Homo sapiens: one gene and its partners. The protein of the gene in region 2 purifies or fractionates together with the protein of the main gene of each other region. This does not show direct contact. Each region holds a gene or a part of one and is shown on either strand. Other genes may lie near its edges.

What was found.
Region 1: the proteins of FBLN7 (region 2) and TXNDC11 purify together in Homo sapiens (affinity purification with mass spectrometry; 4 studies listed by BioGRID and IntAct, with this or other methods). This does not show direct contact.
Region 3: the proteins of FBLN7 (region 2) and ASPH purify together in Homo sapiens (affinity purification with mass spectrometry; 3 studies listed by BioGRID and IntAct, with this or other methods). This does not show direct contact.
Region 4: the proteins of FBLN7 (region 2) and EDEM2 purify together in Homo sapiens (affinity purification with mass spectrometry; 4 studies listed by BioGRID and IntAct, with this or other methods). This does not show direct contact.

Annotation. Positions count from the first base shown.
Region 1 is NC_000016.10:11,690,491-11,698,772, reverse strand, and holds part of TXNDC11 (thioredoxin domain-containing protein 11), read left to right. Parts: intron 1-447; coding exon 448-648; intron 649-6,690; coding exon 6,691-7,483; intron 7,484-8,282. UniProt on the Homo sapiens protein: May act as a redox regulator involved in DUOX proteins folding. The interaction with DUOX1 and DUOX2 suggest that it belongs to a multiprotein complex constituting the thyroid H(2)O(2) generating system.
Region 2 is NC_000002.12:112,182,625-112,189,240, forward strand, and holds the end of FBLN7 (fibulin-7 isoform 1 precursor), read left to right. Parts: intron 1-166; coding exon 167-304; intron 305-2,576; coding exon 2,577-2,715; intron 2,716-4,364; coding exon of another isoform or gene 4,365-4,383; exon of another isoform or gene 4,384-4,509; coding exon 4,510-4,882; 3' UTR 4,883-4,937; coding exon of another isoform or gene 4,938-5,012; 3' UTR 5,013-5,594; downstream 5,595-6,616. UniProt on the Homo sapiens protein: An adhesion molecule that interacts with extracellular matrix molecules in developing teeth and may play important roles in differentiation and maintenance of odontoblasts as well as in dentin formation.
Region 3 is NC_000008.11:61,641,165-61,649,446, reverse strand, and holds part of ASPH (aspartyl/asparaginyl beta-hydroxylase), read left to right. Parts: intron 1-2,568; coding exon 2,569-2,697; intron 2,698-4,814; coding exon 4,815-4,847; intron 4,848-5,445; coding exon 5,446-5,502; intron 5,503-6,013; coding exon 6,014-6,061; intron 6,062-6,526; coding exon 6,527-6,559; intron 6,560-8,282.
Region 4 is NC_000020.11:35,122,917-35,131,198, reverse strand, and holds part of EDEM2 (ER degradation-enhancing alpha-mannosidase-like protein 2 isoform 1 precursor), read left to right. Parts: intron 1-4,823; coding exon 4,824-4,948; intron 4,949-7,164; coding exon 7,165-7,309; intron 7,310-8,282. Other genes in the region: MMP24-AS1-EDEM2 (ER degradation-enhancing alpha-mannosidase-like protein 2), read left to right, coding at 4,824-4,948, 7,165-7,309. UniProt on the Homo sapiens protein: Involved in the endoplasmic reticulum-associated degradation (ERAD) pathway that targets misfolded glycoproteins for degradation in an N-glycan-dependent manner.

The DNA of each region.
Region 1 (8,282 bases), on a different chromosome or scaffold from region 2:
TGCTGCCCTTGGGGGCAGCATTTGAAGGACCAAGGTCAAAATCTAAATGATCCTTGACTCTGTAGTTTCTGTTCCCTTAGATATGTCTTGGTCCTTTTATGAATACCCAGTGACGTTTAATACCTGTCCTTGGACAGGGTGATAGAGGTTGTTATCGCCACCAGCTGGCAGGGAGAATTATTTGTTGATAGGTGGGTCTGTCTCAAGGCAGAAAGATGAATCACACGATATGGAAGTCACCTCCTGCAACCACTTTTGTTTTTTCAACCACTTGTGAGGAAATGCTGTCTCTGGAGAAGCGGGTGTTAGCTGCACAGTGGGGCCAGGCCCCGCTCCACGCCTGGGTTTTCTCACCCTTAGTGGTGGGGTTGGAACAGCACTGATGTGCCTTGAGCTTGCCCCACCTCACGAGCTCTCCTTTATCCTCTGTGCCTTTGTCCTTCACAGGTCTTCCCCAGGGAGGTCCTGAACTACACAGCTGAGAACATCTGTAAGTGGGCCTTAGAAAACCAGGAGACGCTCTTTCGGTGGCTGCGGCCACACGGAGGCAAGAGTCTCCTGCTGAATAACGAGCTGAAGAAAGGACCAGCGCTGTTTCTGTTCATACCTTTTAATCCCCTGGCCGAAAGTCATCCTTTAATAGACGAGGTAAGAGCTGTGATGTGAAAAGCACCTCATGAGGAGTAGGAAAGCCTCATCTACCTGGCTCCTCTCATCCCACACTCAGTCATTTACTCTGGCAGCTAATGGCTGCCACGAGGGGCAGCTGTGGCTCTGAGCATTGCTCTTTGCCCCTCCATATGGGCAGGAGAGAGCCCGTGTCTAGGACAGGGACTGCCGCAGCCTCTCTGGCCATATTTATTGACAGCTGTTGGTGTCTGGAGTGAGTGGGAAGAGGCAGGGAAGCCACACCGTGCCCTTCTAGAGAAGGACCAAATGCCCTCTTCTGATGTGGCTGCTGTTGAGCTTCCTGTTTAGGGGGTGAAACAGGGAGTGGCAGGAACACAGGCCGAGTTTAGTGTGGCCTAGGAGATGCCATTGTCTTGGGGGTTTGGCCAGACTGCCAGCCCTGGCCATCCTCAGGACAGCAGAGGAGAGCGAGCAGCAGCAGCGATGTTGGGACACCTTGTTTCTCTGAACCTTCCCTGTCGTGCAGAAGCCAGAGTGGTTTTCAGAGGCAGCGCCATCGGAGCCTGCTGTTCCTGCCTGTCTTCGGCTTCATCTGGTGCGCCTGCTCTGGGCGTGAGTTTATTTTCCACACGGAGCATTTGGAGGCGCTCAGAGACAGCAGGCACATTTTGCAGAGCGAGCCTGGAGAGACAGCAGGCACAGTATGCAGAGCGAGCCTGGGGTGGCAAAATTGCATTTACTGAGGTTTTTATTTTTTCACTCCCTCAAGGATCCCTTAATTGGCCAAAACCAATTTCAGACAGCCAGTGTACCACTGGCCAGCTAAGCAGACCTGAGCCCCTCAGCGCTGGCCTGGCCTCCTGCCTGGAGGGACAGGGAGGCAGGACTTCTCGCCCAGGTGGATCCCTCCCTTTGCTGTGCTGGAGTCTTTTTGCTCAAGTTATGATTCCCTCTGGGGAGTATTCTGAATGAATGCTGCTCTTTGGTTTAGAGGAAGAAAGAGGAGAGAAATGAAATAGCTTTGTTTCTTCCCCTCTAATTAGGGAGGACTCAAAGTAATAAAACTATTTCTTTAGAAAATTTTCACTACATGGATATTTTGTGAACTGAGGCACCATTTCAAATGACTAGGCCTTTACTGTATCTAATATTAAGAGCCTTAAAGCTCATTGTAGGAAAGGAAGGTTTTCGGTCAAGGTGGTGTGGCTGTGGTTGTGGATTTGGAGAGTTCTCTCCTGTCTGGTTTGGGTGTGTCAGGGTCCTGGCTGGGTTGTATTTTGTGGCAGGAGCCCACAGCCTCTGCCCAGAGGGTTGTGGTTGGATTTAGGCACCTGGTGGGAAGACTCTTTCTCGCCTGTTGTTTCTGAATGAGTGTCCCCTCCAGCAGTCTGCAAATCCTCCACCTACCAACAGGCCTCCTTTTTATCATGGTTTTGCCTGTGACTCCTTTCTTTGGGGCTCCCATTGTCTCTGTGAGGTGAGTGCGTTCCCTTAACTTCAGCATGTGGGTGAGATGACCGAACACGAGGTGGCATCTCACCGTATTATGAATTACTCAGACAAGCAAAGTGCCTGTCCAGCACATTTCCCTTTTTGTTTCAGGTCAGTTTGGCAAATGTTTACTGAGCACTGTGCTGGGAAGCTCCAGGGGAGAAAGGATAGATGCGACACCATCTTGTCCTGTGGTCTTAGAGGCTTGTCCAGTACAGGGAGTGAAAGCCTGCCTATAATTCAAAGTAGAGGACGATCAGGCCCAGGGTCAGGAGGAACCAGAGGAGGGAGGGTGCCATCTCAGAAAGCGGGGTTCCGGGCAGGGGAGGAGTTAGCAGAGGCTTTGGATGGGTGAAGTATTCGAGACGGACTTGTAGGGGCAGCCAGGATCTTGATGGGTTGAGAAAAACTTACGGGAAGGAGGACCCTGAGCAGAGACATGAGGGACGGGAGTTGCTGCAGGTTTAGGTGTTAGGAAGGAGGCCGGGTTTTGTGGTCTGCAGGAAGGGCTAACTGGGGAGAGATCTTGAAAAAGCCTTTGGAGGAGAGGGCCTTGTGGACTTCTCTGAGGATTTCAAGATTAACCATAGTCATCCAAGTCTTTGTCTTCTCTTTTTTTTTTTTTTGAGTTAGGGTCTTCCTTTGTTGCCCAGGTTGGAGTACAGTGGCATGATCTCGGCTCACTGCCTCCTGAGCTCGGGTGATCCTCCCACCTCAGCCTCCCAAGTAGCTGGGACTACAGGTGCACGCCTCTACGCCTGGCTAATTTTTGTATTTTTCTGTAGAGATGGGGTTTCGCCATGTTACCCAGGCAGGTTTCAAAAGCCCTGGGCTCAAGCGATCGGTCTTCCTTGGCCTCCTAAAGTGTTGGGATTACAGGCATGAGCCACTGCACCTGGCCCATACAAGTCTTACTGACAGTGAAGAGATGCAGCCAGGGCTGTGCGTTATCATTACGAACGTTTTTCTGGCAGGAGGGTTCCAGAAAACTGCGAAGTAGTAAGAACCTGAACTTGGGTGGTAGAGGTGGAGGGTGGAAAGTAGGGTCTATGATCGGGGAAACTGTGACACAGTGACTAGAGATGAAGAAGCCTTTGGGTAAGGTGGGAAGGATGAACGCTGTACTTACGCAAGATGAGCTGTAAATTCATTAGCTTGTTGACCACGAAAGAGTTAGGTGGCTTTACTTTTTCATTACCACCTTAGGCCTAATATTGGGCAGAACTTTGAGGATGCTTGCATTGTTGAGAAGAGAGAGGTCATCTTAGAGTGAGTGGAATAGAGTTGGGGGCATACCAAGCACCAACATTCTGGACAGTTGTGCTGTGGTGCATGTAGGATGCCAGTCAGGAGTGACCATATGGTGGCCGCACCAAGCCCATAGTGGGTAGCTGCTTCTACACACATGCATACCTGCATGTGTACCCACACACACATGCAAAAGTACAGATCCTGACACTGGCGTGAGGCCACTGACACCCTGGTGTCTCTAGAGAGTTCTAGAGAGGTTATAAGACATCACAGTGTGTATTACACAACTTGTTAATCAAAGGAAATGCTTACCTCAGCCAGCAAAGAGTCTTCGTGACTTGTTTCCTATTTTAAAGGTGTTTATTTGAGGCATTCACATCGTCTGAATCTGGTAAGCAAAGGCGTGGTTAGCATGTTCAGGCTCACAGATTTCCCTGATTAAAGAAAATAGAAGGAAACATCTACTGTGCGAACAGTTATTTGCCAAGATTTCCTTAATTATTCACATGAAATAAATGACATCAAGTGATACACAGAATGTGACATGAGTTGTGTTTTCAAAACTGCCTGTTAGGTAAAAGGAATAGAAACATAAATTCCCCTTCATAGGAGAAAAATGATAATGCCTAACTCTTTAAGAGCATTGCTGGCTGGGCGCAGTGGCTCACGCCTGTAATCCCAGCACTTTGGGAGGCTGAGGAGGGTGGATCACATCACCTGAGATCAGGAATTCAAGACCAGCCTGGCCAACATAGTGAAACCTCGTCTCTACTAAAAATATAAAAATTAGCCAGGCATGGTGGTGTGCGCCTGTAGTCTCAGCTACTTGGGAGGCTGAGGCAGGAGAAACGCTTGAACCTGGGAGGCAGAGGTTGCAGTGAGTCAAGATGGTGCCACTGCCCTCTAGCCTGTGCAACTGGAGCAAAACTCCGTCTCAAAAAAAAGCATTGCTGGTCGGGCGCGGTGGCTCATGCTTACAATCCCAGTGGGATTACAGCCCTGGGAGGCCGAGGCAGGTGGATCACCTGAGGTCAGGAGTTCGAGACCAGCCTGGCCAACATGGTGAAATCTCGTCTCTCCTAAAAATGCAAAAAATTAACCAGGCGAAATAAAAATAGAAAAAATTGGCTGGGTGTCGTGATGCATGCCTGTAATCCCAGCTACCTGGGAGGCTAAGGCAGGAGAATTGCTTGAACCTGGAAGTGGGAGGTTGCAGTGAGCTGAGATCATGCCATTGTACTCCGGCCTGGGCAACAAGAGTGAAACTCTGTCTCAAAAAAAAAAAAAAAAAAAAAAAAAAAAAGCATTGCTGTAGACAGAATACTTTCTTCAATTAAAAATATTCTTTACGTGGCTGCTTTGTTTATGAGATACTGAAGCTAAAAGAGATGAAGAAAGATTTTTCAAGGAATTTTCTTCTCTATAATATAATTAATGATCTCCTACTTGGACTTCTGTAAAAGATTACAGTAAATCGTGAAGTCTTATGGAGGTTTTTGCGGGAGTGGGTGGGAGTAGTTGTCTATTACTGCGTCTTTGAATCTAAAACAGTACCAGGATGGGGCCAGAGGGCATCTGGGCTCTTCACGGATTATATAGGCTTGACCTTGTTAGTACTGCATGCTGTCAGAGCCTCATCCAAAAACCACTGAGATGTTTTTGTGCAGGGGAAATAAAATTTCAAGCACTGGCCTATCATCTAAAGTGACTTCTTTTCTTGACCCAGTAGTTTTCTGGTGGGTTATAAAGTGACTTTTTTTATGCCGAGAACTATTGAAACAATTTATTTTTGTGTACAAATATGTATGTTTTGAATTAACTATAAATATTACGTTATAAAACTTTTTTATTTTTATTTTTATAAAACTTGTGTTTTTAAATTGGAAATTACACTCATTGAATTGTTTTACACATGCAGACACACAGACACACACACACACACAGCGAAACAAAATCCTGAGTGACAGCACCCTGTAACTAACTGTGGTGAGATTTGATTCAAGTTGACAGACTCTTCTGTTTTAGAGAGTAAATGCCTTTGGATTATAACTTACATGTCTTTCTCAGGAAACCAGAATGGGAGGTGGGTAACGAAATATTCTTTTTGGAAATGGAAGAATCTTAGAATAAAATATAAATTCAAATTGCCAATACTGGCTTGACGGTAAAGTGGCAAATCTCACCAAGACAGAGGATTGTGTGCATTACCCTGAGCTGCCACTCATTCATCAGGGGTTTACTGAGCATTTGTTATGTGCCTGGCCCTGTGCTAGGCCCCGGGGATGGCAGGATAAATCCAATGTGGCTTCTGCCTGTGAGGTTCTGTAAGTTTGTGGGGAAGAGGGATGTCTCAGCAGAAGCTTGTGAGACTGTAGAAGGGGTCTCAGGGACACTGGAGGTGCAAAAACTAGCTCTTCCTGGAGTGGGAGTAGGACTAGCTTCCCTGAAGCAGCTGCCCTGGTGCTGGGCCTTGGGAACAGATGGAGGAGCCGGTGTCCCCAGCCAGGACTCCGTAAAGGTGTGGCATTGCAGGAGGGCCTGGTCTGTTCTGAAGAGGGTAGGGTGAGACTGGAAAGCCAAACGGGCCAGATTGTGTGGAGGTTTTATCTCATGGGCAGCGTACCATTTGGCCCAGGAGTGCCATGCCTGGGGTTGTATTTTTAAAAATATAGTAACCATCTCCCCCTGCACTCTCATCTACCCTGCTGCGTATTCTTGGTGATACGTTCCAAGACCCCCAATGAATGCCTGAAACCACAGATGGTACTGAACCCTGTATATACTACACACGAATTTCACTTTTCTTCACAATTTCATGGGTAGAAGATTCGTTCTTACCGAAGATCTTAACATCCTTACCTCTTTTTTTTTCCTTATTGAGACTTTTGCCGTTTCACTTAAAGGAAGCATTTTTGGCTTCTCTTTGGCATATCTGAATTGCCAGCATCACTATCCTTACACTTTGGGGGCCCTTCTAATAAATAAAGGGTTACTTGAAGACAAGCACTGTGATACTGAGACAGTTGATCTGATAACTGCGTTGGCTACTAAGTAACAGGCTGGCAGCATCCACAGCATGGACACGCTGGACAAAGGGATGGCTCGCAGTTTTTGTAATGGCAAAAATTTCATCACACTACTCAGAGCGACATGTAGTTTAAAACTTACGACTTGTTTATTTCTGGAATTTTCCATTTAGTATTTTTGAACCGGAGTTGACCATGGATAACTGAAATTACAGAAAGTGAAACGTGGCTAACGGGGTGCTAGTCCCTCAGTCATCCCCAAGCCCTTCACCAACTCTGCCCTGTATTTCAGATCACCGAAGTGGCCTTGGAGTACAACAACTGTCATGGGGACCAGGTGGTGGAGCGTCTCCTTCAGCACCTGCGGCGGGTGGATGCTCCAGTGCTGGAGTCCCTGGCCCTGGAAGTGCCGGCACAGCTGCCAGACCCGCCAACGATCACAGCGTCCCCCTGCTGCAACACTGTGGTGCTGCCCCAGTGGCACTCCTTCTCCAGGACCCACAACGTCTGTGAACTCTGTGTCAACCAGACCTCCGGGGGCATGAAGCCGAGCTCGGTCAGCGTGCCACAGTGCAGCTTTTTTGAAATGGCAGCAGCTCTGGATTCTTTCTACCTCAAGGAGCAGACCTTTTATCATGTGGCATCAGACAGCATAGAATGCAGCAATTTTTTAACTTCCTATAGCCCCTTCAGCTACTACACTGCATGTTGCAGGACCATAAGCAGGGGTGTGTCAGGCTTCATCGACTCTGAACAAGGTGTCTTTGAAGCCCCTACTGTTGCATTTTCTTCCCTTGAGAAGAAATGTGAGGTTGATGCCCCAAGCTCCGTTCCTCACATTGAGGAGAACAGGTATCTCTTTCCAGAAGTGGACATGACTAGCACAAACTTCACAGGCCTGAGCTGCAGAACCAACAAGACTCTCAACATCTACCTTTTGGATTCAAATTTGTTTTGGTTATATGCAGAGAGACTGGGTGCTCCGAGCTCCACTCAGGTGAAAGAATTTGCGGCAATTGTTGACGTGAAAGAAGAATCTCATTACATCTTGGATCCAAAGCAAGCACTGATGAAGCTCACCCTAGGTACTGCAGGCAGTTTATTTCCCCAAGCATTGTACATTTTGCTTGACTTCATATGGGTAAATTTTATTGATGGCTCTCATTACATTTAGTTGTGGGGTGATGTCACCTTCGTAGCTCATTTTAAGTCTTTAGACCACCATCAGTCATAATTTTCAAAGAAGCTAATTTTGTCTATTAAATGGAACAGAAACTTCCTCACTCTGAATTTTGGATAAGTTTGTCATTTAGCCCATGGTGGGGGTAAGAGTCCCACTTTCTAAATTGGCGATTTCTGTCACATGTCTAAGGTAGAACCAGCTGCAGGCAGTGGGGACTTGGGGACTAGAACAGGCAGGGAGGTGGAGAGCTATTCTGGTGGGATGTCCTAGGGGCTGATGAAAGTGAGCCTTGACAGCAGCTTTGTTCTAAAGGAGCTTAAAGAGAAAGCAGTGGCCGGGCGCAGTGGCTCACGCCTGTAATCCCAGCACTTTGGGAGGCCGAGGCGGGTGGATCACGAGGTCAGGAGATCGAGACTATCCTGGCTAATGTGGTGAAACCCCGTCTCTACTAAAAATACAAAAAAAAAAAAAATTAGCCGGGCGCGTTGGCGGGCGCCTGTAGTCCCAGCTACTCGGGAGGCTGAGGCAGGAGAATGTCGTGAACCTGGGAGGCAGAGCTTGCAGTGAGCAGAGATCGCGCCCCTGCACTCCAGCCTGGGCGACAGAGCAAGACTCCGTCTCCAAAAAAAGAGAGCAGTGAAGAAGGAAGTAGAGCCGCCTTGCCTCCCTTTTTGTCTCATAGGCTTAAATGTCTAAGGATC
Region 2 (6,616 bases):
TCTTGTGAGTGCTCTGCTGGGGGTAGGGCATGGCGGCTGCCCGAGGCCCAGCCACTTAACTGCAGCTGCCACTGCCTCCAGGAATTGAAGCATGATTGTTCTGGGTCACAGCTGGCAACACTTGCTGCATGGCTCCTAAAGTCACAGTGAGCACTTCTGTCTGCAGACGTGAACGAGTGTGAGCTCTACGGGCAGGAGGGGCGCCCCCGGCTCTGCATGCACGCCTGCGTGAACACCCCGGGCTCTTACCGTTGCACCTGCCCCGGTGGATACCGAACTCTGGCTGACGGGAAGAGCTGTGAGGGTGAGTGAGGCTACAGAGTGTCGTCTGCACCCAGCCACCTGCTGCTGTGCTGAACCCCCAGGACCTCACAGTCGGGAGTGAGGTGGTTAGGAGAGTCACAGTTTCAGATACATTGGATTTTTAAAAAGCCACCAACCAAAGGGCTTCTCAAAGGTCAGGCCACATTATCATCTACATAAATAGGAAAATGAGTTCCTTAAACATCTTGGCAACTAGTCTTTTCCGACTTTATTTGAGTAAATGGGTTTTTTGTTTTCTTCAAGGTCTGGTCAATTCTACCCACTCAACAATTCCTTCAGCTAGGGCTGGGCCTAAAGGCAGAGTGGCCAGGTGGTCACCCATGTCATGTAATCTGGAGGAACCCATGAGACTCCATGACCCTGTGTCCACCTGTAAGTCCACCTCTGAAAGGGGCAGCACCTTACAGGCACTTATGTCTTAGTGAGGTCGGGCGCTACAGCACCAGCCTTGTCTGATGGTAGCTGAGGACAACAAGGGAGGCGGAGCACCCAGGGAGGGACAAGAGTCGGGGGCATCACTACCCCTGGCTTGTGAGGTACAGGAAGTGAGGGGGCTTATCAGAGCCTGAAAGATTGTGGCTCTGATCAAGGACACAGCCTCCATCAGAACCACATCCAGGCAGGTCAGGACTCCTCAGGCTGGGTCACTGTCATTTGCCAACCCCAGCTAAAAACCAGTCAGCCTCTCAGGTGCAGAGAGTGGGTTGGGGGGCAGCGGCGCAGATGGAAAATAACTGGCTCAGGTTTCACCCCAGTGCTGAATCCTGTCCATCAGCAGTGGTTTCCTGGAGGGCCGGGTTGAGGTTTCTGAGGCTGATTCCTGGCAGAGTGGGAAAGAACATCTTAAGTTGACAAGGAATGTCTGCAGCAGGGATGGGAGGCACCTAAGAGATTAGGAAGGATGTGTGCAGAGTGGGTTGGTTGTAGAACAGAGAGGCTGAGAACCCTCGCAACAGTCACCATCATCACTACAGGACAAGTCCCAGGGACACTGGGTGCCTAACAGGAAGCCTCCTGTGTTTCCCCACCTCCACTTAGGGAAAATACAGATGTCAGTTGATGTAGACATGCTGAATCTCCACATGAGCTGAGTCAGAGCACACATCTCAGGCCTGAAGCCCAAGTGGGATCATCCTGACCCTTGGCCCTTAAACCACCATGCTGCAGTGGGCCTTTCGGGGGGCTGGTTCTGCTCCTGCAGGCATACCTCACACTAGGAGGGTGGACAGGCCCACCTCCCCAGCTGGACTTCCCCCATGGAAACAGGACACAGAGGGGAGCCCCGCTGGCTCCAGATAACAGCTCTGACCCACCAAGGGAGAACGGGAGAAGAGAGGGCAGAGGGCTCCTCCATGGGCTGACGTGGGAATGTGAGGGGAGAGGTGGCTCCCCGGTGACATCCCATTGGGGCCCCGCTGCAGGGCTCTGAGGAGTGGGTGACCTGGGGCTGGAGCAGGAGAAGGCATCCAGATAGCCACCCACACTCCCTCCCTCCCACAGTGCTCACGAAGGCCCACCTGGGGTTGCTTGGGGTTGGGAGGGACGGCCTCCAGCTGGGGAGACTCTCTGGATGTCTGCAAAGGGAGCAGAGAACTCATACAAATCATGATATTGAGGTGTCTGCACTCGCATGGGGTGAGGCTGGCAGGGAAGACTTTCTAGAAGATTCTAATTTAAAAAAAGTGTGTGTATATATAGTATATATAGGTATATGGTATATATATGCTGTATATGGTGTATATATGGTATATATATGAATATGGTATATGTATATATATGTATATGGTATATATATATACACACACCATATATACCATATATACGTATATATGGTGTGTGTATATATATACCATATATACATATATATATATACCATATACATATATATACACACACACATATATATATATGAAGAATAACAGCCATGGAGGGTAATGGGGCACTTGGGCTGAGAAGCAGACAGGTCTAAGAGAAGCATTGTGACCAGTAACACTCACCTGGTGCTTTCCACCATCCTTGCCACCTGTCATACCCCAGGGAAAGAGGACAGGATCCCAGGGAGGGGCACTCCCTGGCATTTCCTCAGGGCCCTGATTCCACACAGTTAAGGAAGGCAGGCTTTCTGCTTTAAGAATAAGTGCCAGGAGCAGGGAGCACCACATTACAGGACCTGCAGGGCCTCTCATGTGGTTCTGTCTGCAATGGAGGGAAGGTCAGGGCGATTCTCACCTGTTGTATGTCCTGTATCTCAGATGTGGATGAATGTGTGGGCCTGCAGCCGGTGTGCCCCCAGGGGACCACATGCATCAACACCGGTGGAAGCTTCCAGTGTGTCAGCCCTGAGTGCCCCGAGGGCAGCGGCAATGTGAGCTACGTGAAGACGTCTCCATTGTGAGTATCTCCAGGGGAGGCACACCCTCACCCAGGCCTCCAAGTGTGGCTGGGCTGGATGCTTCCTAGAGGTTCTTGGGAGAAGGTACAGTTATACCATAGAAAGATGAGAGGCAGGAGGCTGGGAGGCTGGTGTCTCTGAATTTCCATTTCCGCTTAGTGGTTGCATTTAATGCGTTGCTGCTCTGGAGAAATAAGAACCCCATTCCCCATGGGAGTAATATACTAAGTGCACCCCCACTACATAGAGGTTGATGGGGTTGCTGCCACCCCAGGATGGCAAAGCCAGGGCAGGCACTGAAGGGAAGAAGCTGTTGGTGACATTACCCTGATAAACCCATAGCAGCCCAGGAGACAGGTATAGATCACATGGATTTGGGAGGTGACAGCATTCACATAGCCAGGAACTATAGACTCCCTTGAGTTACACTGCATATCCCGTGCACCCTGCATTATATCACTCTGCTTTTCCAATAGTACTAGAAGGTTCTACATCTAGTAACTGCAACTCTTAAACAGCAAGTAGAGCTTTTTTTTTTTTTTTTAAAGTTGGGAGATGGGCCTTTAAGGGGAATGACTACAACTATCACAAAGCACATACATTTTCCTCTCAAAAAGAGATCACAAGAGCCCTAGCGTTGTCTTTAAAATGAAGTAACAGCCATGGAGGGTAACTTAATTATTTGAATTGCTGTTGAGTTAAAGCAGATTAGAAGCAGCAAGAAACTTAGTGGCACTGAAGCATGGCAGTTTTTAGAGAGAGTGAAGACATCAGAACCTTCCTCATGAAGTCACTCGGTGAAGGGATAGGGAACGGGTCTATGACGGCCTCTGGGGCATTCGACCAACAGCTGGATGTGACAGTTGACTGCATAATCATGATGCTACAGAATCGCCAAATATACTAGATTGCATTTGTCTTTTAACAACATAGAGAAATATCGAAAGCATTTCCACAAGACCCTCTTTCCAAATGATTAAGGAAAACAGGGCTTCCTGCGTTGAGAATACACGTGATGGCCAGGCACAGTGGCTTATGCTTATAATTCGAGCACTCTGGGAGGCCGAGGAGGGCGGATCCCTTGAGATCAGGAGTTCGAGACCAGCCTGGCCAGCATGGTGAAACCCCGTCTCTACTAAAAATACAAAAATTAGCTGGGCGTGGTGGTGGGCACCTGTAATCCCAGCTACCCAGGAGGCTGAGACAGGAGAATCACTTGAGCCTGGGAGGTGGAGGTTGCAGAGAGCCTAGATCATGCCATTGCACTCCAGCCTGGGCGACAGAGTGAGACTCTGTCTAAAAATAAATAAATAAAATACATGCTGCTGTGTTTAGGAAGTTCACCGTACACCGTGTGGGAAGCACTGCATTACAGGATGTTGCTGGCTAACTGCTGAGGTCCTGCCATTACTGGGCGAGGTCGCAGCACATGGAGAAAGGGCACCTGGTTTGAATATCAGCATTGCCATTGTTATTTAATATTCCCAGGCTATATTTTTCTGTAAAAATGATAGTAATAGCATAAATAAATGTATGTGCACACACATACACACGTACACAGGTGGGCAGGGAGCACCCTTGAGCAGGAACAGAAGCAGCAGCCCTTCCTTTGCCATGCCTGACACCAGCTACATTCACTCGTCCACAGCTCCATAGCTCCTGGGTGAAGGACCCGTGGCTGGGAAAGGTCATCTAGGTGGCCTCTGCAAGAGGGCAGGTGGGCAGCCGGGTCAGAGCAGCTCTTCATGAGACTCCCCAAGGCTGACTGCCTCCATTTTGCCTCTCCGCTCCAGCCAGTGTGAGCGGAACCCCTGCCCCATGGACAGCAGGCCCTGCCGCCATCTGCCCAAGACCATCTCCTTCCATTACCTCTCTCTGCCTTCCAACCTGAAGACGCCCATCACGCTCTTCCGCATGGCCACAGCCTCTGCCCCCGGCCGAGCTGGGCCCAACAGCCTGCGGTTTGGGATCGTGGGTGGGAACAGCCGCGGCCACTTTGTGATGCAGCGTTCAGACCGGCAGACTGGGGATCTGATCCTTGTGCAGAACCTGGAGGGGCCTCAGACGCTGGAGGTGGACGTCGACATGTCGGAATACCTGGACCGCTCCTTCCAGGCCAACCACGTGTCCAAGGTCACCATCTTTGTATCCCCCTATGACTTCTGAGGGTACACAGGGGCACTGGGGTGTGGAGAGCTGACCTCATTTCTCTTCCCCGAAGGCTCAGCTTCGGGCACCGACTGCGTGGAGCCTCCCGCCTGTTCCCGCCCTCTCACCAGTGCACCCAGGCTTCTAGGGCAGCGTTGCACGGCGCCCCATGGAATAGCACGGAAGAGCAGCCACAAAACTCAACTGCTGCCATCACTCTTTTTTTTTTTCTGCTTTGAGGCCCTTCCCTTAGATTATGCACTAACTTTCTTAAAACTTTTTCATCCAGGGGATGGGTGGCTTTCCAAAATGCTGTGCAAATGGCCTTGTGAGTTTGAACTAGCTGGGGAGAGAAAAGGTGGCAATGTGTGTCAGGTGACTATCAGCCCTTCTGCCTTTTTGTAGCCAGGCTTGCTATGAATGAAACGGTTCTAGTCGTGCGGGGGGCCCTAGTCATGCCTCTGCGCATGTGGCATAGGAAGTGGAGTCTCCTCCCATGACCCAGCACGTTGTTCTTATCTGCCTTTTCCTCTGTGACATGCCTGCCTGCCTGCCTTCTCATCAGAGAGTCACAGGAGGGCCTTAAACCCCACGCAGATCCTTCTAGACCAAGGACCCATTGTTAAAAGCATGGATTCTGCCTGAGTTACTTCCCTTTTGAGAAATCATATCTCAAATACATAACCTGGTAATATAACTGAAAAAATAAAAGTGATTGCTCCTTCCTGCCCGCCTGACTTCTACCTGAGCATGAGACAGCCCACTTCCTTCTAGGAGGGGGTGGCTGACTCTCTTCCTGTCTGGGTTGGATACACTGGAATAAATGAGTCAGAGAACACAGAGGTGATGTTTGGGACTGTTCCACATTATAAATTTGTTTTGACCACATGGGAGATTGGTAAGGACAATACCTGGCCGTGGAGAGTTTAGGAAAATGCTTGAGTTGTCATAGATTCCATGGCCTTTTGTTTCTGATGAATTCACTACAGGGTGACGCCCTCCAGGTGATCAAAGAGAGAAAACACTGGCCAGAGCTGAGTGGGGTGTGGTAGGATGGGGTATGGGGTAGGGTGGGGAAGATCATTCAAGCTAAAACTTAAGAGGTAGCGAAGCTGTAAGAAAGTTTCATTATCTAATTACATGTCAAGCTGCTGGTGAGATTTCCTCACACATATTTTATTTAAATCTTTGTATTTGCCCTGGTATGAGATGGAGCCAGAAGTGTGTCACTAGTTCAATGATCAAGCCCTACATCAAGATGGTTTCTAAGATGGTTTATTCTTGTACTGTTGTTTGGACAAAGGTTGAGACACAGTCAAGAGTTGCTTTTGAAATGTTTCTTCTCCCATGGGCTCAGCTGCGATCTCTAACAACAGAAAAAGGACATGCAAACTAAAGTTACAAGACTTCATTAAAACATTATCCACAGCCTTATGTTTCTAAATGTAGCTATGCTGGGCCAGAAGCCTGCACACCACCCAGTCCCATGTGCACAACACCAGGCGGAAGAGTCTAAGGGCCTGGCCAGGTTCCTGAATGGGAGATGTCACAGCTGTGGGCTAGGGACAGCCCACACATCACACACATCATATGTGAGATATGATGACATATGATGTGGGATATATGTGGGATATATTGAGATATGATGTGTTCAGGGGGACAAGCCTCTCACATGCCAGAAGGTGGGGAGTGTTTGGGGAGTCTCCAGAGCAGGTGCCCTCTAAACTGGTATATGATAGGGCTTTGATGCCA
Region 3 (8,282 bases), on a different chromosome or scaffold from region 2:
TACTTGGCATCTCCATTTGGATGTCTTATGGGTGTTTCAGACTTAAAGAACTCATGATTCTTCCCACACCCCATAGCTCCTCCTCACCCCAGTTCTCCCCAGATTGCTTATGCTAGTCTTTTATATTTTAGTTAATGGTCCTCCTACCCTCTTACTTGCTTAACTTGAAAACTCGAGAGTTTTCTTTGATTTTTCTTCTCCCCTCACATCTAATCCATCAGCAAATCCTGTCAGCATTGCCCCAGCACTGATTTTGGCTCTCTAGGGCCTCGGTGTGACCGTGGCTTCTTGCCATGACTGTTGCAGTAGCACAGTAGCATCCAGCTGGGTCTCCCTGTTTCCATACTTGCTCCTCTATAACCTGTGCTTAATGTGGCCCAGCCAGTTGTGCCTTGTCTGATCCCAGCCTCTTTTTCCCCTTCAGTGACTTTTCTCTAGCCCAGCTGACCTCTCTTTTCCTTGTAATTGCCAAGCCTATCACTGCTTTAGCACCCCTGCACCTGGTATATCTTTTGCTGAGATGTGTTTCCCACCCCGCCCAATCACATCTTTCAGACTGAGCATAACCTCCCTGCCCCCATCATGGTGCATTCACAACTGGATTCAGGTCCTGTATCTGCCATTGATTAGCCATGTGGCTTTAGCACAGTTTTTCAAGTTCTTCATCTTTCAAAGTAGGATACCAGTACCTGCTTCACAGGGAGGATATAACAGCTGCAGAGGGCTTGGCCATGCCTAGAGTCTCATGACCCCTTAGGAAATTTTTCATGATGAGACTCAAAGATAGTGTTCAATGTTAGACTGGTTTCGCTACAGAAAACAGGAATACTTCCACTGAACAACCGCATACGAAAGCTAAATCCTGCTAGTGTAAAAATCATCAGATTTCACTGGATAGAATGAAAGAAGAATAAGGAAAGAGGAATATGATAAAAATAAAAAGAGAAGTAAAATTTGTAGCAGAAATTCAAATTGGTGATTTGCTGAATAGCAGAAAATCTAAAATGAGGAAAAACAGTATTGCAAGCTATGAGGAGAAGATAGAAAACAAATAGCATCAACATAAATAGGCCTGCCTGATTCTCTAACACCTGAGAGCATTGCCTTGCCACGCTAAAGGGAGAGTAACTAAGGAAGGCTTCTTGCAGTCTGGGCTGGGGTTGTGGGGTAGGGGGATTCAGTAGCAGTACAAATGACAATGTTGTTATTACTGTAATAATGGTGATAATGACACCTAAATACTTAGGGCCAGGCATTTTTCTAAGTGTTTTAATCTTCATAACAATGTTACAAATAGATATTATTCCCATTTTATGGGAGGGAAATCTGTGGCACAGGGTAGTTAAGTAATTTGCCCACAGTCACCCAGCTGGTATGGAAGAGCCTGAATCTACAGCCATGCATCCGGACCCCATACTCGTCCTAATCCCTGAGCTGCACTGCAAAGCCAAGTCCTGCCCATTCACTTTCTTTAGAGTATTATACACAGGAGATACTCTGCTGGAAGCCAGGTCAAGTTACATTGGGATGCAATACCCAGTCTTAACCATGTTGCAGTGGAATCATGCAACATGTCCAACCTCTACACAAAAGAAGCAGAGCAGTTCAATATATCATAGAAGTTAATCACAGAAGAGAAAGTGGGCATCTTTGCATAACTTGAAGCCTAATAGGAACATTTGAATGCATAGTATGATTCAGGTAAACCTGTGACCTAGCATATAATTTATTTTTATTTATTTTTAATTTAATTTAATTTATTTATTTATTTATTTTGAGACAGAGTCTCACTGTGTCACCCAGGCTGGAGTGCAGTGGCACCATCTTGGCTAACTGCAACTTCTGCCCCCCAGGTTCAAGCGATTCTCCTGCCTCAGCCTCCCAAGTAGCTGGGACTACAGGCACGTGCCACCATGCATGACTAATTTTTGTATTTTTAGTAGAGATGGGGTTTTACCATGTTGGCCAGGCTGGTCTTGAACTCCTGACCTCAAGTGATCTGCCTGCCTCAGCCTCCCAAAGTGCTGGGATTATAGGCGTGAGCTGCCATGCCTGGCCCTAGCATATAATTTAGATAGGTGGCTAGTCACTCTTTGCTATAGAATATTTGAATAGTCATTTAAAGTTGTTACCTGGAATTCTATGTCAATTCCCAGGAAAAGGCCATAGAGTAGCCTTTTCTTTGACCTGAGGATAATTGAAGAGGCAAATATATTAGTAATAATTATGAATTCATTTATTCATTCATCAAATATTTATTGAGTGCTTCCTTTAGCTAGACATGGCCCTAGGTGACTGGGAATATATAATGGATAAAATATATAAGCTTCCTGTCCTGATGTGTAACATCCTAATGAGAGGAAACCTGTCCCCCACCACATATACTTAGGCAGATTAGCACTTGGCCAGAGGAAGAAAATAGCTGTGGAGTGGACAATGGTGTCTTCAGCGGCCGAAAGGAGGGGCAGGGGAAGCCCCAGCAGCAGGAGCAGGTGTGTGGCAGCCCTTCACAAGGGGCTTTCATGTCTCAGTTGTATGTTGCCAGTGTCACTTTGTTCATTGTCATAGTTGAGGGAGAAGACTTGCAACAAGAAGATGGACCCACAGGAGAACCACAACAAGAGGATGATGAGTTTCTTATGGCGACTGATGTAGATGATAGATTTGAGACCCTGGAACCTGAAGTATCTCATGAAGGTAGAACACTTTTTTTTCAAGTTTTAGGATAAAATATAATCAATGACTTCTAATTACTGAAGTTTTTCTTAAACCCCTTTAAAACTGATATTTAACTTTTGCTTAGATTTTTAAAAGTTGAAGCTTAAAGCTTCAATTAAAGCAAATTTTTTCTTAAAATAGATACCTTGATTTTGGTTCAAAGCACTTTTCAGGGAAACTCAGAATATACAAATTTCTTATAAATAGTGAGTCAAATACTTGAGGAAACTAGTTTTACTATATTCTTCTGCTTAGGGTGCTATTTGTTAAATAAAATTCAAACAACTGATGAAATATTGGACTTGATAATCTATCACAGGCTCATGTTCACACATGAACTCTGTAATTACAGTGAGCAAAACACAATTCTTAGCTTCTGTACCAGGCATTGGCAAACTTTTTTTTGTAAATAGCCAGAGAGTAAATATTTCAGGTTTTCTGGATCGTACAGACTCTGTTCAGCTACTCAACTCTGCCATCACAGCGTAAAAGCAGCCTTTGATAGTTCCTAAGTGGGTCAGTGTAGCTGTGTTTTTATACAACTTATTTGTAAAATCCTACCCAACATGGCTGGTAAGTGCAGCGGCTTGAACACAGCTCACTCCAGCCTTGACCTCCCATGCTCAAGCAGTCCTCTCACCTCAGCCTCTCAAGTAGCTGGAACCACAGGCATATGCTACCATGCCCTGCCAATTTTTAAATTTTTTATAGTGGCAAGGTCTCCTTATGTTGCCCAAGCTGGTCTCAAACTCCTGGCCTCAAGCAATTCTCCTGCCTCAGCTTTCCAAAGTGTTGGGATTGCAGGCATGAGCCATTGTGTGTCCAGTTAGCAAACACTTTTTAAAAGCATAAAAATGAAAAGTAGTTTATCTACTTTGCACAATACTAAATATTTTGGAAAATTACTTTAGCAGCAGGTAGCTCCTACTTTATGAGTACATGTATTTCCAAAAACTTATATCCATGCCTATTGTTTAGAACAGGAAATGCACTTTCCCATAAAAATATGGGATGGTTTGGTTTTCAAAAGAATTGTATATAATGCATAATTTTCTGTGAAAAATACAAGCACACAATCCTTTTGAACATCTATATGATTTATTTTTGCTGCATTACACATTGAAAATAAGCACTTATAGACTACCTTCAGAACTTTATGCCTTTAGTAATCATTTATGTCATGATTTCTTTGGGACAAGGTTTCCAGTTTCTGAGTAGGGATACTGATAAAATGATTTCCACATTTCCTGTTGCTTCTTCTCTCCAGTCTTTGGCCTAAATGGCTCAGTAAGATTGACAGTTGCTCAGAATTTTTCTATCTACATGCTGCTTATACAACAAATTTCAGTTAAGATGCTGAAATAAACAGAAGCATGAGGAATTTGATATTCTTAAAGTTAGGAGTCACAGATTGGGAGTAGGAAGAAACACTTTTAAGAAGTTCACAAATTGCAGAAACCTTACTTTCTGATCTCATCTTTAATTAGGACATAGATGCAGTTTGAACTTAAAAGTTGGTTGTTAAAAGTCTTCAGAAAATAAAAATATTTATTCTTTATATATGCATTAAATAAAATTAGCAAGGTCATAAGTGTGGTGACGGACAGATAGCTCTTCTGCTATCTGGGGTGTATGGGTTAAGTGTTCAACACATTTACCCTTCAGCTCCCTAAGGGTATAAAGCCTCTTCAGCTGTTTTTCTCTGTTCCCATCCATAGTTGCTGTACTTTCGCTCTAGAAAATGGTAGGACAGGTCGAGGAGATAGCACATTCTAGTGGGTTGTGAAGTGGATTAGAAATGAACGGCTTTCCTGGTCTGGCCTGTGTCACTCTAAGTTGTCCTCTCTCTTTAGTCCAGGGGGTGGTGGTTGTCAGCCTTGTGGGGATGAGTGGACTGAGAAGGAGAATGTGTGAGACATCCCACAGTGTACTTCTAGTGAAATATAAAAGTGTTAAGCAGACTTTTAATTGATAGTCCCATTTTTTAATTTTTTAAATAAAATTAATGATAAGCATAGATTCAGAGTACATATACGGGATATATACATACCATTTTGTAAAAGCAGTAAATATCAATCTAATTTTTTTTTTTCCAGAAACCGAGCATAGTTACCACGTGGAAGAGACAGGTGAGATTTTAATTTAATTCTGTTCTTAATTAGAGTGAGTCTTCCTTTAAAAGGGCATCATAAAATACATAATATCTATTATTAATGATATATTTAAATTAATATATGCAAGATATGCAATTAATAATTTTATTACGTCTTATATTTATGGTATTTCTTTGTGAATATACTTTTTTGTGTTTTGATGCCTAGTTCCTGAGGATAAATTTTCAGTAGGATTACTAGTTCAAAAGATACAATTGAATTGCATGTTTTGTACCTTTCAATTACAGAGTCAACGAAAGGTCTAAATCATGTTTTGTCACATGCCAGCGCCCTTAAAGGGCATGGCCACAGGAGGTGGGCGCATCATCTGTCAGCACTTTACTGTTTTGCGGTTTGAGTGTAAACCAGTTGATGACAGGCCCCCCTTACTCATCTTTGCATTTGGCATTTAACACACTTAATACCTATTTGTTTCAGGAGTGAACATGTTTGAATATCATTATGACTTGATTTTGCATTTCAATCATAACTAGAAATTGTGTCTTTCTGGTTTCGAATATTACATGTATTCCTTATTTGAGACGTAATTTCCTAATTATTCCATAATTTATAGTTTCACAAGACTGTAATCAGGATATGGAAGAGATGATGTCTGAGCAGGAAAATCCAGGTTTGTAAATGTTAAAATTATTGATATGTGTTTTCTGATTGAGGCAGTGGCCAAGGCCGTTTTATTCCAGGGTTAACAATTGTGATTCAACACAGAGATCCCTGTATGGTATTTATAATCACTTTTGATTGGTCAGATGTTTATAGAAATGTCTGAATATAGTTTAATACTACATAGAGGGATGAGAGAAAAAGGAGACGTATTTTTCAAACCACTGTTGAGACTTTGGTCTTTGTAGGTAAGGTGCTGGAAAGAATATTTGAAAATTGAAGGGGCAGTATGATGTACTATAAAGTCATTCTGGGTACAAATCCCATTTCTACTCTTTCCTATCTTTTTGACTTAGGCATCAAATTGTGGAACGTTATTCAGCTTAAATTTTATTAAATGATAATGAAAACATCTATCTGGCAAAGTTGTGAAGATAATTAATTTATGAATCTCCTAGAATGCTGTCTGGCAATGTGTTTGGTTTTTTCCTGTTTGGCAAAGGTGTGTTTTTGTTTTTTAGATTCCAGTGAACCAGTAGTAGAAGATGAAAGATTGCACCATGATACAGGTATTAGATGAGCATTTTCATTAGATTTAAAATATTACCTTAGATTTTTCAATCACATGCTGTGTTTACATGGTGATTTTTCTTTTAAAGGCATCAAAGAAGTAATTTCGACATCTAATGCATGAGATTTTGTTTTATAACAAAGTTAGACTGTTATAAGAATATCAGGCTTTCATATTTCACCTCATCAACTAACCATTCCATAACAAAACAGGATGTCAAATTTTAATGCTGTTTTTGTGTATCAAATTCCTCTGTGCCAATTTGAGAAATTTTAATGAAAATAATTTACCTGCCTTTTAATTGCTTTTGGGCAGAGGCATTTATTATTGACTGAGCAGACATTAATATTTGAAGGAGTAGAGTTCTGTGTTTACGATTAAGTAGTATTTTGTTTTAACTGAACAATTGTATAGAATGACTCAGTTAATACTTATTTTGCTTTTATTCTCTTTTTTTTTTCAGATGATGTAACATACCAAGTCTATGAGGAACAAGGTTTGCAAATGCTTTCTTTTTTTTTTTTTTCTTTTTTTTTTTGAGATGGAGTTTCGCTCTTGTTGCCCAGGCTGCAGTGCAGTGGCACAATCTTGGCCCACTACAACCTCCGCCTCCTGGGTACAAGCGATTCTCTTGCCTCAGCCTCCTGAGTAGCTGGGATTACAGGCATGTGCCACCACGCTTAGCTAATTTTGTATTTTTAGTATTTTAGGGTTTATCTCAAACTCCCGATCTCAGGTGATCCTCCCGCCTTGGCCTCCCAAAGTGCTAGGACTACAGGCATGAGCCACTGCGCCCGGCCTGCAAATGCTTTCTAACCTTAAGCCACCTTCTTGTTTTAAAATATACCTATAGTTTGACTACAAGATGTGGAACATTATGCTTTAAACTATAAACTTTGCAACTTAAAACATCCAGATGAACGGTAGCGTTCAAAGAATTCACTTGGGGAGACTGTTTACCCATTCCACGGCTTCTGCCATTGCCTAAATAATTTCTTAAACTCTTTACAAGTTGCCTTAGGAGGCAGTTACAGTCATTCAAGAAAACCAATCTCAGTACTTTATAGTTGTGTCTCTTTTGACTAAAATATGCATGAACAACTACTTTAGCCGGAGTTAAATTGCTCTAGCTGCTTCTACAGGTTAATCCCACTCTCAAAGATGACTGATTTGTCACCTTGGGGAAGGTTAAGAAGCACTGTGTTCCAGGCTTAAAGGCAGTATGGAGAAAACAGTTCTGGCAAATTTGTGGCATCAGCAGCATCTGATTCAGTTTAGGCCTGTACCTCCCTCCTCTTGTGTCCAAGCATTGCATAGACTATTGTGTTGAACTCCATGAAGTAGATTTTATTTTCCCTGCTTCCCAGAGGACAGAAATAAGGTTCTGACATTATAAATAAGCTGCCCAAGAATGTATGGCTAAGAAGTAATAGAACCAATAATATATCCTTTTTATTCCATTATCCTCAAAGATGATTATGTAGAAAGAGAGAAGTCAGTTGGGTATAACTTTATGTGTAAAGCAAGAACGATGAAGAAATACATCGTAATTGAGTTGGTGGATATGGAGGACTTTCTATGTTCTAGATGGTTTTAGGGCCTGGAATTCAATTATGAGTAACATAGGGTCCCTCCTTTCAAGGAGTTTACAGTGTCATGATAGATAGTGAATCACAATTGAAGAAAATTAGGAGTGTTTATAAATATGAATCATATTTATATGATGATTTAAGATTTGAGACCCTACCAAGTTCATCATCTATAGTGGCTATTTCTAATGGGATATGAATGACACCATGGGAAAAATCCTAGGTTGTGTCTTTAAGGTACTGATAATTTTTATGAAAAGTTAAAGAATTTGGACCTGATGTGTTCACAGGAAGATTTGGGGCCGAGGGAAGGTTGGGGAATAATTTGGTCTTGAGATTGCACTTAGATTTTCTTTCCAATCTTGAATTTGAAGGAGAAAATAGGAATTTATAAATACAAGTTGCATGTAATGATGGGATTTGAGATATTTTCCTCATTTCTACTGATCATTATAATGTTTTTAAAAATATAAAGAACATGTTTGGAATGCAATTTGAAGACTAAATCTAGAGGAATTTAAATTCAAACTCATAAGAAGTATAAAATTAGATACCATGCGAAAAGAATGTTATATGTTTTCATAGGGCAGAGTATCATAATAAATGTAATTTAAAATGTTAGCAAAAGGC
Region 4 (8,282 bases), on a different chromosome or scaffold from region 2:
CAGCACTTGATGCCTTCTTGCAAAAGCCAACTGAAGCGTGCTGCATTCTGTGTATGTAGCCCTGGATTTCTTATCTCCTGGCCATTGCACATGGCATCTTCTTTGCCTAGAATGTCTTTTTTCCTGTCTTCCTATGTCCAAATTCTTTTCACCCTTCAAAGCCTAACTTAAATGTCGCCTTGCCCAGGAAGTAGCTTGATCCTTCTACAGAATTTGGGACCTTCAGCATCTTTCTTGCAGTTAGCTCTCATCAACAGTTACAGCTCTACAAATTGAATGCAGAATCCATGCCTTACTCATCTTATGTTCCCCACAGTGCTTTACATGTGGTAGGTAATAGATTAATACCTGTTGAATAAATACATCTTACCCGCCAGGCCCTTAGACACTAGCAATCTTGAGGAATTGTTGAGCACCTAATTACTATTATTATTATAGCTACAGTAGTCCCCCGTTATCCACAGTTTTGATTTCCATGGTTTCAGTTATCCATGGTCAACTGCAGTCTGAAAATAGGTGAGTACAGTCAGATACGATATTTTGAGGCTGGGTGCAGTGGCTCACGCCTGTAGTCCCAGTTTTTTGGAAGTGAGGATTGTTTGAGGCCAGGAGTTTGAGACCAGCCTGGGCAATATAGTAAGACCCCCTCTCTAAAAAAACAAAGATATTTTGAGGCACTAAATTTACATAATTTCTTTTTTTCCTGTCTCTTACCAAAAAGACAAATTCACATAACTTCTATAACATATATTGTTATACTTGTTCTGCTTTATTATTAGTTATTGTTGTTAATCTCTTCCCATGCCTAATTTATAAATTAAACTTTTTCGGCTAGGCACAGTGGCTCATGCCTTTAATCCCAGTGCTTTGGGAAGCTGAGGCGAGAGAATTGCTTGACCCCAGAAGTTCAAGATCAGCCTGGGCAACATGGTGAGACCTCGTCTCTACAAAAAATAAAAAAAAATTTGCTGGGCATGATGGTGCGTGCCTGTAGTCCCCACTACTTGGGAGGCCAAGGTGAAGGATTGCTTGACCCTGGGAGGTCAAGGGTGCAGTGAACCGTGATCATACCACTGCATTTCAGCCTGGGTGACAGAGTAAGACCCTGTCTCAAAAATAAAAATTTTTAAAAATTTAATGAATTAAGAATTCTCATAGATGTGTATGTATAGGAAAACAGTAGTCACGCATTGCTTAATGACAGGGATATAGTCTGAGAATTGCATCGTTAGGTGATTTCATCATTGTGCAAACATCATAGGGTGTACTTAAGCAAACCTAGATGGTATAGCCAACTACACACCTAGGCTATATGGTGTAGCCTATTGCTCCTAGGCTACAAACCTGTACAGCATGTTACTCTACTGAATACTATAGACAATTGTAATAGAATGGTAAGTATGTATATAAACATAGAAAAAGTACAGTACAAATACAGTATAAAAGGGCACATGAATGAAGTTCACAGGACAGGAAGTTGCTCTGGGTGAGTCAGTGAGTGGTGAGTGAATGTCAAGGTCTAGGACATTACACTATTGTAAACTTTATAAATACTGTACACTTAGGCTATACTAAATTTATTTAAATTTTTTTTTCTTTCTCCAGTAATAAATTTTTTTTTTTTTTTTGAGATAGAGTCTTGCTCTGTTGCCCAGGCTGGAGTGCAGTGGCATGATCTTGGTTTACTGCAACCTCTGCTTCCCCAGTTCAAGTGATTCTCCTGCCTCAGCCTCCTGAGTAGCTGGGATTACAGGCGCCCACCACCATGCCTGGCTGATTTTTTTTTTCTTTAAAGACAGAGTCTCACTCTGTTGCCCAGGCTGGAGTACAGTGGTGCAATATCGGCTCGCTGCAACCTCTGCCTCCCGGGTTCTAGCAATTCTCCTTCCTCAGCCTCCCGAGTAGCTGGGATTACAGGTGCACGCTGCCATGCCCAGCTAATTTTTTGTATTTTAGTAGAGATGGGGTTTCACTGTGTTGCCCGGGCTGGTCTTGAACTCCTGAGCTCAGGCAATCCACCCGCCTCGGCCTCCCAAAGTGCTAGGATTACAGGCGTGAGCCACCGTGCCTGGCCTAATTTTTGTATTTTTAGTAGAGATGGATGGGTTTTCACCATGTTGGCCAGGCTGGTCTCAAACTCCTGATCTCAGGTGATCTCCACCCACCTTGGCCTCCCAAAGTGCTGGGATTAGAGGCGTGAGCCACCATGCCTGGCCTCCAATAATAAATTAACGTTAGCTTACTGTAACTTTTTTACTTTATGAACTTTAAAATTTTAAAAAACTTTTTGACTCATTTGTAATAATGCTTAGCTTAAAACACATTGTACAGCTATACAGAAATATTTTATTTATATCCTTATTCTCTAAGTTTTTTTCTGTTTTTAGTTTTTTATTTTGTTTTCACCTTTTAGACTTTTTTGTTAAAAACTAAGCTACAAACACACATTAGCCTAGGCCTAGGGTCAGTATCATCAATATCACTGTCTTCCACTTCCCCATGTTATCCTGCTAGAAGGTCTTTGGGGGCAGTAACACTCACAGAACTGTTGTTATCTCAGATGATTGATAACAATGCCTTCTGGAATTCCTTGAAGGACCTGCCTGAAGCTGTTTCATTTTTTTTTTTTTTTTAGACAGAGTTTTGCTTATGTTGCCCAGGCTGGAGTGCAGTGGCACCATCTCGGCTCACTGCAACCTCCGCCTCCCAGGTTCAATTCTCCTGTGATTTTCCTGTCTTAGCCTCCTGAGCAGCTGGGATTATAGGCACCCACCACTACGCCCAGCTAATTTTTGTTTTTGTTTTTATTTTTTTTGGAGACAGAGTCTTGCTCTGTTGCCCAGGCTGGAGTGCAGTGGTGTGATCTCCGCTCACTACAAACTCCACCTCCCGGATTCACGCCATTCTCCTGCCTCAGCCTCCCGAGTAGCTGGGATTACAGGCGCCCGCCACCACACCCAGCTAATTTTTTTGTATTTTTAGTAGAGATGGGGTTTCACCGTGTTAGGCAGGATGGTCTAACACTGACCTCGTGATCCGCCCACCTCGCCCTCCCAAAGTGCTGGGATTACAGGTGTGAGCCACCACGCCCAGCCGACTTTTTTTATATAAGAGGAAGGAGTTATCTAATGATAATAATATAGTAAATACATAAACGCGTAAATGGTTGTTTATTAAATATCACGTACTATACATAATTGTATGTGTTATACTTTTATGACTGGCAGCACAGTAGGTGTGTTTACACCAGTATCACCACAAACAAGTAAGTAATGCATTGCATTATAAAATTACAACAGCTGTGATATCTTTAGGCTGTGGTGATTTTTCACCTCTATTATAATTTTATAGGACCACCATCTCTACAGTTCAGTGTTGACCAACATGTTGTTATATGGCACATGACTGTATATAGAGTTTATTTAGTACTATCCATGGTTTCAGACATCCACTGAGGGTCTTGGAACGTATTCTCCTCACATAAGGGGGGACTACTTTACTCATTTATTCAACAAATATTTATTGAATACCACGGATGTACCAAGCATTGTGCCAAGCTCTGAACATGGACTGTTTCATATAATCCTTACAACTCCTGTTTGAGATTATCTTATTTATTTGCATGTATATTTGGTACTTTGTTCATTCAGAAAATGTTTATTGCTCATTGTACTAGTGTGGGGGATTCTGCAGTAGACAAAACAAAGTCCCAGGCCTCATGGATTTACAATCTAGGGGAGAGATATGAGGGATAAATTCAAGTTCCTACTAGAATGTAAGTTCTCTGAAGGCTGGATTTTGTCTTGTTTACAAACTCATAGGAGCCTGGAACCTAGTAGGTGCTTAGCGAATGTTTGTGGTATAAATAAATGACTGAAAAATTCCACAGATACCTAACATTACTGTATTAGACCATTTTCACTGCTGATAAAGACGTACTCAAGACTGGGTAATTTATAAAGAAAAAGAGGTTTAATGGACTCACAGTTCCACATGGCTGGGGAGGCCTCACAATCGTGGCGGAAGGCGAAAGGCACATCTTACATGGTGCAGGCAAGAGAGAATGAGAGCCAAGTGAAAGGGGAAACCTCTTATAAAACCATCAGATCTTGTGAGACTTATTCACTACCATGAGAACAGTATGGGGGAAACGGCCCCCATGATTCAATTATCTCCCACCAGGTCCCTTCCACAACACGTGAGAAATATGGGAGCTACAATTCAAGGTGAGATTTAGGTGGGGACACAGCCAAACCACATCAATTATTTTCTGCTTTTTTCTTTTTGAGATGGAGTTTCACTCTTGTTGCCCAGGCTGGAGTGCAATGGTGCGATCTCAGCTCACAGCAACCTCCGCCTCCTGGGTTCAAGCAATTCTCCTTCCTCAGCCTCCCAAGTAGCTGAGATTACAGGCATGCACCACCACACCTGGCTAATTTTGTATTTTTAGTAGAGACAGGGTTTCTCCGTGTTGGTCAGGCTGGTCTCGAACTCCCAATCTCAGGTGATCCGCCCACCTCGGCCTCCCAAAGTGCTGGGATTATAGATGTGAGCCACCACGCCTGGCCTCCCCATTTTATAGATCATAAGGCTGAGGCTTAAAAGGGAAAAACCCACCCCAGGTCACGGTTAGCAAGTGGTAGAGCTGGAGCTGGAATTTGAGCTGGAAGTTTGACTCCAGAATCCATGCTCTTGTCTAGCCTCCTTGCCTCATTGCATCCTGGTGCTCTTTCCAAAGTGTAAGTTCTCGCTTCCGCTGTCCAGGCCTGCCTTTTTTCTCCCTAATCACTCATATGTCCATTATCCCATCTCCCCCACTGCAGAGTATAACAAAGCCATCCGGAACTACACCCGCTTCGATGACTGGTACCTGTGGGTTCAGATGTACAAGGGGACTGTGTCCATGCCAGTCTTCCAGTCCTTGGAGGCCTACTGGCCTGGTCTTCAGGTAGGAATGATCAAAGAATGTGATCATCTTTCTATGAGTCTGGCAAAGCAAGCTCATTCTGATGTATAAGTCAAATAATGTACTTTGTTAATTGCTTGAGTACTTTTTTTGGAGGGACAGGTTGAGGATGGAAGAGAGACCTAGAGTGAATTAGATAGATTTAGAGTTCTGCCAAATTGAGTGTCAGGAACTGAGCTTCCAGTTTGCCATGGAGTGTTACAGTACTTAAAGTCGACAGTGCATTTCCAGTCTGGGCAGGAATGGCCATTGGCAACAGGTGTTTCTCCACTGGGCGTTTCTGTCCAATCTCATTCTTGACAGTGGGCCTCAGGAAGGGCAGGAAGCAGCTTGTGCCGCTGTGCCATCTCGTTGTTTTTCCATTACATGGTCTGGTAGAGTTGCAGCTGGAAGGATCTTAGAGCTTATCTAATCTACCCCACTTTGGTGTTCCAAAATAGTGCATGTACCAAAATGTTTTTATAATCTACGTTTTTAAAAGTTTTAAGAAAAAGTAGTCCCACCTGGGCAACATAGTGAGACCTCATCTCTACAAAAAATAAAAAATTAGGTCGGGCGCGGTGGCTCAGGCCTATAATCCCAGCGCTTTGGCAGGCCGAGGCAGGCGGATCACAAGGTTAGGAGATTGAGACCATCCTGGCTAACACGGTGAAACCCCATCTCTACTAAAAATACAAAAAATTAGCTGGGCGTGGTGGTGGGCGCCTGTAGTCCCAGCTACTCGGGAGGCTGAGGCAGGAGAATGGCATGAACCTGGGAGGCGGAGCTTGCAGTGAGCTGAGATTGCGCCACTGCACTCCAGCCTGGATGACAGAGCAAGACTCCGTCTCAAAAAAATAAAAATAAATAAATAAAAATAAAAATAAAAAATTAGCCTAGGGTGGTGGCACATGCCTGTAGTCCCAGCTACTCAGGAGACTGCAGTGGAAGGATTGCTTGAACCCAGAAGATCAAGGCTGCAGTGAGCCATGATCATGCCATTGCAGCCTGGGTGACAGAGTGAGACCCTGTCTCAAAAAAAAAAAAAAAAAGTGGCCACCGGGTTTCTATCCAGAATAACCAGGTAGACATTGTGTCATTTACCAAGAAGGGAAAAAGGCCAAAGTAGGGAGGCAATTTCGTGGGAAAGTAAGGGAACCAAGAATTTTGTTTAGGAAGTGCCAAGTTTGTTCTGTCCATGAGACATCCAATGAAGATGTCAGGGTCAGCTGCTTCCCTGTGAGATTACATTAATAGTAATGGCTACTTAGCAATAGTGGTAAAATTATAAATGCATATATCCTTTGACCCAGTGATCCTAATTCTGAAAATGTATCTTACACATAACATTTTACATCTATTTGATGTGACATATATACAGAATTATTTATTGCCACATTAGTTGTTGGAACCAATTCAAATAAAAATATCTGAAAGCCAAATTTCCATATCTAAAAATATGGAGATAATTAATATCCCTATTAATAAAGAACCAAAGGCTATTTTTTAGTGTGGGGAAAATAACATATACTCATGCATAAAGAAACTCTGAAAGGTTATACAAGAAACCAGTAATGTTTATCTGAGGCCAGGCAAGATGGGTGATGGTTGTAATCCCAGCACTTTGGAAGGCTGAGGTAGGAGGATCACTTGAGCCCAGGAGATTAAGACCAGCCTGGGCAACAAAGTGAGACCCCCATCTCTACAGAAAATAAAAAAATTAGCACTGGGAGGCTGAGGTGAGAGGATCTCTTGAGCCCAGGAGGTCAAGGCTGTAATGAACCGTGATTGTGCCACTGCACTCCAGCCTAGGTGACAGAGCGAGACCCTGTCTCAAAAACAAAAACAAAAATGGTTATCTTTTGGGGGTGTGGTGTGGGAGTGAGCCTTAGCACAAACTTTTCTCTATTCTTAGAATTTTTAACTGGCTGGCCGAATTCCAAAACTGTTAGCTGACATTGACTCTGAAGATTTAGGGACTTAATATACAATCTTTGTTCCTTCCAACAATGCATGAGATAGGTGGTGTATTTTACGTTTTATAGATGGGGCTCAGAGAAGTCCAGTGCCTGGCTCAGCACCACACTGAGTAACTGGCAGACTCAGGGATTGATTCAAGGCCTTTTTGGCCCCACAGATTTTACTTTGTCTTTTCTTAAGGTTGTCTGTGGGGTTTTATGCCTGGTGTCTACCTGCCTGACAGCCACTTTCTCCCACAGAGCCTCATTGGAGACATTGACAATGCCATGAGGACCTTCCTCAACTACTACACTGTATGGAAGCAGTTTGGGGGGCTCCCGGAATTCTACAACATTCCTCAGGGATACACAGTGGAGAAGCGAGAGGGCTACCCACTTCGGCCAGGTGAGCAGCATTTCTGGCTTGTCATCTGCCCACAGGCTCTGGTTGCTGAAACCCCAAATCCCCTCTACAAGGCTCCATCCTCCACAACTGCCCACAAGTTCATTTCTTTCCATCTGTTCCTTTCAGTGGCTCTGGGTGGTTTTCTTACTAGGAGTTAATTATCCCCATGTTTTCAGATATGGAAACTGAGGCCTAGTGGGATGAAATGGCTCGCCTCTGGCTCTTAAGTGCAGGAGCTAGGCCTGGAACCCAGGGCTCCTAACTAAATTGCATGCTCTTTTTTATTTTTATTTTTTTGAGATGGAGTTTCGCTATTGTTGCCCAGACTGAAGTGCAATGGTGTGATCTCGGCTCACCGCAACCTCCGCCTCCTGGGTTCAAGCGATTCTCCTGCCTCAGCCTCCCGAGTAGCTGGGATTACAGGCATGAGCCACCATGCCCAGCTAATTTTGTATTTTTAGTAGAGATGGAGTTTCTCCATGTTGGTCAGGCTGGTCTTGAACTCCCAGCCTCAGGTGATCCGCCCACCTTGGCCTCCCAAAGTGCTGGGATTACAGATGTGAGCCACTGCGACTGGCCCCATATGCTCTTTCAAATCAGGAAATGAGTGAGAAGGAAAAGGCCAAGGTTGACTCCTTTTGAGCTCCTGCCATCAGGATTTCAGAAGTGTAGGCAAGCTTCCTAAGTCCATGGGTCAGATAAATTATGCTTACGTGTATGGAATGTTAGAACTTTGGGGCGGACCTTAGGAATTACCTAGTCTCTTCCACCTCCCCATTTGCAGCTCAGAATCAAGCAAAGGACTATATTTGAGACACTCTCATAGGTTCCTTTCTAGCCCTAATGTCATTTGATTCACTTCAGGGAAGCTGAAAATTGTGAGGAGGGAAAGAAAAAGAGGGACAAAGGAAGGAAGCTTAGTCAGCACACATAGTCATCCCCCACCCCAAAACAGGCTATGAGCCCATTGTCT